2 separate regions of the Homo sapiens genome follow, and region 2 is linked to region 1. Evidence: fine-mapped expression QTL. A gene starts in region 1. The other region holds a variant in brackets. All regions are shown on one strand. Distances are between the middles of the regions.

Evidence for each region.
Region 2: its variant is fine-mapped to the expression of EIF4G3 in whole blood (TOPMed, PIP 0.97).

Annotation. Positions count from the first base shown.
Region 1 is chr1:21,174,746-21,179,745 of GRCh38, forward strand. It overlaps EIF4G3 (eukaryotic translation initiation factor 4 gamma 3), which reads right to left and starts at 2,152. Exons shown (of 37, transcript NM_001391906.1): 1 at 1,977-2,152; 2 at 1,430-1,613. RefSeq lists an enhancer at 2,067-2,116.
Region 2 is chr1:21,023,417-21,028,930 of GRCh38, forward strand. All of the region lies in intron 4 of EIF4G3 (eukaryotic translation initiation factor 4 gamma 3), which reads right to left. Among named protein-coding and RNA genes, the nearest start is that of MIR1256, 38 kb to the left of the region's middle. The variant C/T (reference allele first, on the strand shown) is at 1,976.

The DNA.
Region 1 (5,000 bases):
CTTTCTCATCGGTGAACAATTCCTAATTGAACAGAATCATGCAGGATAAAAACATTATGAAATCAGTACACACGTCACACTGGAATGGAATTTATCTTTACACTGCACCGCGGTGCCTGGATTGAAAATCACGAACTAGGTTTAAAGAACAGAGAAAATGACACTTGGCAGAAAACAAACAATGACCTGAAATGACTCTAGAAGGGAGATTGCTTTCCCTTCTCAAAGTAATCTATACAGACAAGAATCAAACTACAGACTGTGAAATAATCTGGGGACCTCACAGCAGTTAGCTTCTTACTTGCTCAAACATCCTACAATCTCTAAAAGTCAAACGCACGATGACACAAACATAAAAACACAACACATCTAACATCCAATCATTATTTATTGATTTACACAAATACAGTGGGTGTAGGGAGGAGGTGATGCATGATGAAATGTTATTCTCAGGTACGCAATACCTTTCTAAATCTCCGTGGAATACATGAATTCAACGTTTTACCTTCACCGGCTAGTTTTTGACTAAAATACCCCATCACCAAGTCTTTTCAATCAAAGCTCTCCAAAATTCTACAATCGAGCAAATAACATGAAATTAGAAACATTCAATACTAGACTTTCCTCCAGAAGCCCTGGTAACTCTCTAGACATCAGGCCTATGAGGAGTAAATTAAAGCCCATTAAAAATATTCAGCCTAACACAAATCTTCCAAGAAGTGAGACTTTTGTGGGTGATGGGTAATGTCGGTGAACTTCCTCTTCCTTTAAAAAGGTCAAAGACAGGGAAGCGTCCGGCGTCACATTTCCTCCTCAGATCTCTACCACAAACCACATCACAACTCTCCCATTACTAAAAAAAATTATCCAGAGGAACTGCTTTCTGTACATTTTCACCTTAGACTGAAAATCCAACATACCTCGGAAACGAGCTGATTGGTTTCAAACAAGAAATTTACCGATAAAGTTTATTATGTACTAATAATAATTATGGAAGCCCACTGTGTCCCGCTGTAGGGGGAGCCGAGGGGAGGTGAAGAGCAGGAGGGTGTAATCCTCACAACAACCAGAGAAAAGCCTTCCCTGCAGGGTTGGTCCCAGGCACCAAGCAAATTCTGCCCAATAAAGGGGGGGAGGGTACCTTAGGGGAGGAGGGGAGAAGGGACCCCAAGCTCTAAAAGGAAGGGGCTGCAGAAGCATGGCCAAGTGGGGCTAGCTTTCACAGTATTGCAGAGGGTCTGGGGGTCCCCCCGCAGTGCTGCTGCCGGGGCACCCCAAAAGCTCCGCCCAAGCCCGATGCAGGGGCTTGAGCCGCTGTCCCTTTCCTGGCTGGGCTGTGGCGGCCGGCAGGAGGGTCCCCTGGGCTGCGGGGTCCCCCTGGACTGCGACGACGAGAACCGAAGGGCCGACAGGAAGGTGAAAAGGATACTGTTGGGGCGCCTGAGTCTGGAGGGCCCTGATGTTCGGGTGAGGAGGGGGGACCGCTGCCGCCGCCGCCGCCGCCGCCGCCGCCGCCGCCGCTGCTGCCGCCGCCGGGTGAGGAGGCGGTACCGCTGCTGCCGCCGCCGCCGCCGCTCCGGTGCCGGGTCCGGTTCCTGCTGCAGTCGCTGTGCCTGATTTCAGAGCCGGTTTCTGCGGTAAACTCATGGCAAAGCGAAGCCACCAACCCCCCCAGAGCGGGACCGGGCGCGCCGGGGTGCAGGGGCCGGGGGCAGCGGGGGGGCGGGATGGGGGCAGACCCGGGGAGGCGGCGGGAGCGGGGGGCTGGGGGGAGCCTGGGGGGAGGAGGAGGAGGGGGCCGGGGCCGGTCACACACGCCCGACGCCGCCGCCGCCGCCGCCGCCGCCTCCGCCGCCGCCGCCGCCGGCAGCAGCAGCCGCCCCGCGGGCCAGCACCACCGGCTGCCGGTCTCCGTGACAACGCGACCCCAGGGGGGGGGCCGGACCCGGCGGGGGCAGGAGGCGGAGAGACCGGACCTTTCACGGCAATATCCTCATGGGCCGGCGGCGGGGGATCTTTATCCCCCTCCCCGGAGGAAGCGGCGCCCTTCTCGGTAGCGGGGCTCAGGCGATGCCGGTGGATTTTCTTCACTCAACGAGCAGAGCATCCAACATGGCGCTGTGGCCGCCTCCAGCAGTCCGGCAGGACGGCTGCTCGGAAAACTTCGGACTTTTTCGGAATGGCTCGGGAAACCGAGGGTGGGAAGCCTCTTCGGCTCTTTCCGGAGACTGCTAGGGGTCGGGATTCTTCGGAGACGCTCGGGTGCGTCCTCGGCCGCCGTTCGGGAGGGCTCAGGGGCTAACTCGCTTCCTCGGCAAAGATCGGCGAGGGAGGCTTCGCTGGCTTACAGCGGCGCGGGTGCGGGGCGGAGGGAAAGACCAAAGGCGAGGTCTGGCTTGCGAGAGTCCTCCCCTGCGGCCCAGCCTCGAAGAACAATGGTAATGGCCCCGGAGTCGGCTGTTCGCTGAGCCCCGCTCGCAGGGGCGGAGAGGCAGCGGCGAGGCGAAAAACCCCTGGAGAAGGAACCGCTTAACCGGAATGGAACCCGTTGGATAGGGACCCCCCGCGGGGACTTCGCGTAACCAATGCCACCCGCCGGCCTGTAACCCACGCATTTCACACCCATTGTGTCGACACTTCCTCAGACGCTCTGAGAGGTGAATGAGGAGCCCCATTTCCAGAGGACACAGAGGAAAAGTGACTAGCCCAAGGTCACCCTATCGGGAAAGGACAGAGCCTAAATCTAAATGCCACCTTCATCTGGATGAACCTTGCCGCCTCCCATATTGGCTGGGGACATGACCTGAGCCGCCATATCTAATCAGCAGCCTTAACTGAGCTCTGTGGATGGATTCAAACCTAGGCCTTCCCCAGGACTGGAGCGCCCTTTGACCAGCAGCCAGTGATCAGCTCCCCAATGTCCTATGCTGGGTGACATTTGTTGATAAGGATTTTCTTCCCAGCTAGACCTGCCAAGATCACTCCCACCCCCAACCCCGCACACCCCACTCCTTAGCAGGTGCCTTGTCCTAAGCACAGTGGCATTGAGTGGGAAAGAATGGCAGGCATCGGCCGGGCGCGGTGGCTCACGCCTGTAATCCCAGCACTTTGGGAGGCCAAGGCCGGTGGATCACTTGAGGTCAGGAGTTCAAGACCAGCCTTGCCAACATGATGAAACCTCGTCTCTACTAAAAATACAAAAATTAGCCAGGCGTGGTGGCAGGCACCAGCTACTCGGGAGGCTGAGGCGGGAGAATCACTTGAACCCAGGAGGCGGAGGTTGCAGTGAGCTGAGAGAGTGCCATTGCACACTAGCCTGGGCGCGACAGAGTGAGGCTTCGTCTCAAAAAAAAAAAAAAAATGGCAGGCGTCATGGAGCAATCAAGTTTTAATATAATATTTACCAGACATGGCACTAAGCGCTGTACCCTTCATTATCTCAAGCAGTCCTGTGAAATAGGTAGTATCCATTTTACAAATGAATAAACTGAGACTGGGGAGGCTCAATACCATCAAACCACAGAAAAGCTGAGAAAATTGAGGCTCAAAACGCACAAAAGACTTCCCCGAGGTCGCACCGACAGTGTGGCTGGCAGAGCTAAGATTAGAGTCTAGTTCTGACTCCTGCTATCCTGCTTCACACACTGCCTTACTATTTTGTTGTTGCTGTTTTTTGAGACGGAGTTTCGCTCTTGTTGCCCAGGCTGGAGTGCAATGGCACGATCTCGGCTCACGGAAACCTCCGCCTCCCATGTTCAAGCGATTCTCTTGCCTCAGCCTCCCGAGTAGCTGGGATTAGAGGCATGCGCTACCACGCCTGGCTAATTTTGTACTTTTAGTAGAGACGGTGATTCTCCATGTTGGTCAGTCTGGTCTCAAACTCCCAACCTCAGGTGATCTGCCTGCCTCGGCCTCCCAAAGTGCTGGGATTACAGGCGTGAGCCACCGCGCCTGGCCTATTGTTGTTTTTAATTCATATAAAGCTCTACACATAGTGGATGCTTAATTCGTGACAATCCCTGGGAGCCCCAAATGCTCCTTCTAGGATAAAAGAGCATCTGAAAGAGAGTGATACCACAACCCCCCTACGGCGTCTTTCTAGCTAGAGCTCCACAGTTTCTGACATTGAAAAGGATGCCTCATCCCCATCTCCAGACTGGAAGACAGCAGCTACTTCATACTGTGGCATCTTAAACTGTCTGGATTTGTAACACCTGATTTTTTTATTTATTTATTTTTTTTTTTGAGACAGTCTCGTTCTGTCGCCCAGGCTGGAGTGCAGTGGCGCAATCTTGGCTCGCTGCAAGTTCTGCCTCCTGGGTTCACGCCATTCTCCTGCCTCAGTCTCCCAAGTAGCTGGGACTACAGGCACCTGCCACCGTGCCCGGCTGATTTTTTTTCTCTTTTTGTATTTTTGGTAGAGATGGGGTTTCACTGTGTTGGCCAGGATGGCCTCGATCTCCTGACCTCGTGATCCGCCCGCCTTGGCCTCCCAAAGTGCTGGGATTACAGGCGTGAGCCACCATGCCCGGCCTGTAACACCTGATTATTTAGGATGGGATTTTCTGCTCCTCTCCACATATAATTGACTCCAGGAAGAATTCCCTAGTGGTCCTTCAGTTCCCCAGATTCTCCTTTCATTTTCTGGAATCTCAGGCATCCTTATCCCAATCAAAACCTGTTCCAAGGAAATTATTTGACTTCTCATTTACACTAGGGTGATAACAGGCCGATAATTGCCTAATTGTTATTCTTTTCTGAGCTAGCTTCATTTTCTAACTTAATAATAGCTACAAGCATCAGACAATTACTGTGTGCCAGTCTTAGCTAAGCACTTTATGAAACTTATCTGTTTTAAAATGGATAGACCTTGGGCAAAATAATGTAAAAGTCCCTGATAAGATTCTGGCCACAGGCAATCAATGGAGGAAGTTTGTAGGGAACAAAGTCAAAAAGGTAGAGCTCTGTTCTTTCAGCCCAAAGAATGGCCTTGCTCAAGT
Region 2 (5,514 bases), 150 kb before region 1:
CGCCGCCATGCCTGACTGGTTTTGGTGGAGACAGGGTTTCGCTGTGTTGGCCGGGCCAGTCTCCAGCCCCTAACCGCGAGTGATCCGCCAGCCTCGGCCTCCCGAGGTGCCGGGATGGCAGACGGAGTCTTGTTCACTCAGTGCTCAATGGTGCCCAGGCTGGAGTGCAGTGGCGTGATCTCGGCTCGCTACAACCTACACCTCCCAGCCGTCTGCCTTGGCCTCCCAAAGTGCCGAGATTGCAGCCTCTGCCCAGCCGCCACCCCGTCTGGGAAGTGAGGAGTGTCTCTGCCTGGCCGCCCATCGTCTGGGATGTGAGGAGCCCCTCTGCCTGGCTGCCCAGTCTGGAAAGTGAGGAGCGTCTCCGCCCGGCCGCCATCCCATCTAGGAAGTGAGGAGCGCCTCTTCCCGGCCGCCATCACATCTACGAAGTGAGGAGCGTCTCTGCCCGGCCGCCCATCGTCTGAGATGTGGGGAGCGCCTCTGCCCCGCCGCCCCATCTGGGATGTGAGGAGCGCCTCTGCCCGGCCACGACCCCATCTGGGAGGTGAGGAGCGTCTCTGCCCGGCCGCCCAGTCTGAGAAGTGAGGAGACCCTCTGCCTGGCAACCACCCCGTCTGAGAAGTGAGGAGACCCTCCGCCCGGCAGCTGCCCCGTCTGAGAAGTGAGGAGCCTCTCCGCCCAGCAGCCACCCCATCTGGGAAGTGAGGAGCGTCTCCGCCCGGCAGTCACCCCGTCCGGGAGGGAGGTGGGGGGGGGTCAGCCCCCCGCCCGGCCAGCCGCCCCATCCGGGAGGGAGGTGGGGGTTCAGCCCCCCGCCCGGCCAGCCGCCCCGTCCGGGAGGTGAGGGGCGCCTCTGCCCGGCCGCCCCTACTGGGAAGTGAAGAGCCCCTCTGCCCGGCCAGCCGCCCCGACCGTGAGGGAGGTGGGGGGGTCAGCCCCCTGCCCAGCCAGCCACCCCGTCTGGGAGGTGTGCCCAACAGCTCATTGAGAATGGGCCAGGATGACAATGGCGGCTTTGTGGAATAGAAAGGGGGGAAAGGTGGGGAAAAGATTGAGAAATCGGATGGTTGCCGTGTCTGTGTAGAAAGAAGTAGACATGGGAGACTTTTCATTTTGTTCTGCACTAAGAAAAATTCTTCTCCCTTGGGATCCTGTTGATCTGTGACCTTACCCCCAACCCTGTGCTCTCTGAAACATGTGCTGTGTCCACTCAGGGTTAAATGGATTAAGGGCGGTGCAAGATGTGCTTTGTTAAACAGATGCCTGAAGGCAGCATGCTCGTTAAGAGTCATCACCAATCCCTAATCTCAAGTAATCAGGGACACAAACACTGCAGAAGGCCGCAGGGTCCTCTGCCTAGGAAAACCAGAGACCTTTGTTCACTTGTTTATCTGCTGACCTTCCCTCCACTATTGTCCCATGACCCTGCCAAATCCCCCTCTGTGAGAAACACCCAATAATTATCAATAAAAAAATAAATTTAAAAAAAAAAAAAGAAAGTGGTGTAAGGAGTATGAATAATATATCAAGAAGTACAGAGCAGAATGTGATTAATTCTTCCTGGGAGAAGAGTTCCAGGGAGCCTCCAAAGGTGGCAGATCAACAGTGATAGATGGTGAGCTTGCAGTCAGCCATAAAAAGCAGAGGAGATCATGTGTAGGCAAAACAAGGAATATTTTAAACAGAAGCACAAAGACCTGAAAAACTAGGGCACGTCTGCTGAACCATAAACACGTCAGTAATGCCAGAGAATAGAAGTGCATGAGGTAGAGTGAGAGGAGGTGACATCAGAGGATTAGATTAGGGCCAGACTAAAAAGACGGGTCAAGTAAGGACTTCGCCATGAAGGTAATCCTAGGAGATGTTGAACAGGGCAGAAATATCATCCAATTTGTTTAAAAAAGAGAGCCATTACAACAATATGAACTCTTAGTGAAGATACTGGTGTCAAGATATCAAACAGGGATCTATT[C/T]CGACAGCCCAGGTACATAGTGATAAGGGCCTGATAACAGCAGTGGATCTCGACAGAAAAAAAAAAGGCAGATTTGGGAGTTAATTCATATATTATAGAAACAGCAGGATTTTCTGAGCACCTAAATATAAGGGGAAGAAAGCTGCTTCTCCAAGGTTTGAGGATTAGATGGTGAAGAATGCTTACAGAACCCAAAATGATTGGGTCCCAGGCTATCATTGACTTCACTTCACATACCATTACTGTCCAGCCATACTGGCCTTATTTTATTCTCTCAAATATATCAACTTTTTTTTCTCTCAAGGCTTCTGCAATAGTTGTTTTCTCTGCTTTGAATAAAAAAGTGATGAATTCATTTATATTATGGAGAGTTTTAATGTCAAAGAGATCTCTAGGTACAAAAGTCTACAGAGTAATTAGGCATGAAGAGAGCAGAGTCAACCCAGAATGAACTAAGAATCAGCAAACATAACCAACAGTCCTTGCCATGAGAGTGGATGAGATAACCTAAAAACCCAATAACAAAAAATTATCCCCTGTTCATGAACTGGAAGATTTAATATTGTTAATATACCAATACAACCCAAAGTGACTTACAGATTCAATGCAATCTCTATCAAAATCCCAATGGTGTGTTCTACAAAAACAGAAAAACTCCCCATCCTGATATTCATATGTATTCTCAAGGAAGTCTGGATAGCCAAAACAATAGCTGAAAAGAAAAAAGCTGGAGGCCTCACAATTCCAGATTTCAAAATTACAAATCTGCAAAAATGAAAAGTGCAGTACTGGTGTAAAAATAAACCAAAAGTAATTAGAAATGGGAAAAAATGGCCCAGAAATAAACCCACAAATATATGTTCAAACGATTTTTGAAAAGGGTACCAAAACCATTCAATGGGGAAAGGACATTTTCAACAAATGGTTCTGGGAGAAATTAGATATACATATGCAAAAGAATGAAGTTAGACCCTCACTTAACACCAAATACAAAAATTAAGTCAAAATAGATTAAGACCAAAATGTAAGAGCTAAAAGTAAAAAAATCTGAGAAGAAATCAGAGAGAAAACGCTCTGAAACACTGGATTTGGCAATGACTTCTTAGATACAATACCAAAGGCAGAAGCAAAAAAAAAAAAAAGTAGACAACTTGGGCATATTAACAATTTAAAATTTTTGTGCATCGAAAGATATTACACCAAGAGAGTCAAGAGGCAACCTACAGAAGAAGAGAAAATATTTGTAAACTGTACACCTGTTAAAAAGTTAATATCCTGGGCTGGGCACCATGGCCTGTTTGTAATCCCAGCACTTTGGGAGGCCAAGGTGGGGAAATCACTTGAGGCCAGGAGTTCGAGACCAACCTGACCATCATGGCAAAACCCTGTCTCTACTAAAAATACAAAAATGAGCCAGGAATGGCAATCCCAGATACTCAGGTGGCTGAGGCACGATAATCATTTAAACCCAGGAGGCGGAGGTTGCAGTGAGCTGAGATCGCACCACTGCACTCCAGCCTGCGTGACAGAGGGAGACACTGTCTCAAAAAAAAAAAAAAAAAAAGTTAATATCCTGAATATATAGAACTCCTAAAACTCAATCACAAAAAAGCAAACAATCAGATTCAGAAATGGGCAAAGGACACGAATAGACATTTCTATTAAAAAGACATACACAAATGGCCAACAAGCCCATGAAAATATGCTAATCCTAAGGAAATACAAATCAATACTATATTGGTATATATCACCTCCTCACACCAAGATGGCTAGTATATATATGTGTACATACACACATACAATTTTTTTTTTTTTTTTTGAGACAGAGTCTCGCTCTGTCGCCCAGGCTGGAGTGCAGTGGCAAGATCTCAGCTCCCTGCAACCTCCACCTCCCGGGTTCAAGTGATTCTCCTGCCTCAGCTTCCCAAGTAGCTGAGACTACAGGTGCGTGCCACCATGCTCAGCACAGTGGCTCGTGCCTGTAATCCCAGCACTTTGGTAGGCCAAGGCATGCAGATCACAAGGTCAGGAGTTCGAGACCATCCTGGCTAACCCAGTGAAAGCCTGTGTCTACTAAAAATACAAAAAATTAGCCGGGCATGGTGGCACGGGCCTGTAGTCCCAGATACTTGGGAGGCTGAGGCAGGAGAATCGCTTGAACTCAGGAGGCAGAGGTTGCAGTGAGCCGAGATCGCCCCACTGCACTTCAACTTGGGCAACACAGCAAGACTCCATCTCAAAAAAAAGGAAAAGTGTTGTAAAAGATGTGGAGAAAGTGGAACTCTTGCACACTGTTGGTAGGAATGTAAAATAGGTACAGCCATTGTGGAAAACAGTATGGCATTTTCACAAAAAATAGGAATAACCATACAGTTCTGCAATTCCACTTCCAAGTATCCACTCTAAATAAATGAAAACGAGGTCTTAAGGGAGTTCTTTGTACATCCACATTCATATCACTATTATTCATAACTGGTAAAACATGAAAGCCAACCAAGTATGCATCAGCAAATGAATAGATAAGCACAATATGGTACCATAGATAAAGTGAAACATTAGCCTTAAAAAGAAAGGGAATTCTGACATATCCTACAAAATGGATGGAACTTGAGGACAATATGCTAAGTGAAATAAGCCAGGCACAAACAACTACTGTATGATAACAGTTATATGATGTAGTTAAAGAATAGCCAAAGCCACAGACAGACAGGAGAATGGCTGTTGCCAGGGTGCAAAGGGAGGGGTCAAAGGGAAGTTATTGTTTAATGGGTATAGACTTTCAGTTTTACAAGATGAAAGAAAAGAGTTATAAAGATGGATCGTGTGATCACTGCATATTATCAATGTATACTTAAAATGTACACTTAAAAATGGGGTTAAGATTTTAAACTTTGTGCTATTTGCATTTTAACACAATTTTTTAAATTGGGAAAAAAAAGAGAAAGGTTCAGAGATAATAAAGTAAGTTGCCCAAGGTCACACATGATGGCTAATTCAAAATGTAAACCTCAAAATGCAGACACCAGTGAAATTATAAAACAAATATCTACTTATACAAAACTCAGGATAATTGTTACCACTAGGGAGAAAGAGGCAGCTGAGATAAAGGAGGAATACAGAGTGGCTTCAAAGATATTGATAATCGACTTAAGGTGAGTGGTGGTTGGTTGTGTTATGATTATCCTTTCAAACCAAACACGTTACAATATACTTTTATAAGCTTAAACATGTCATAATAAATTGTAAAACACAGGTGTTTCAACAAACAGTAAGCAGCAGAATTAGACAAGGTGAAGCAGAGCTACTCATGATACATAACTTCACAAGCTATATACAGTGTATGGCCTGTCGAGCTGTTGGTGACCAACCTAGTACTGAAGTAAGCACAGTTCAGGATATGACTGAAAGTCAATTAGTGATTACTAAAAAGATTATCAAGCAGCTAAGTTGTAGCTATATTATACCTAAATAGAGTTTAGACCAGCTGTATTAATAAATCATTAATTTTTTGTTTGAGATACAGTCTTGCTGTTGCCCAA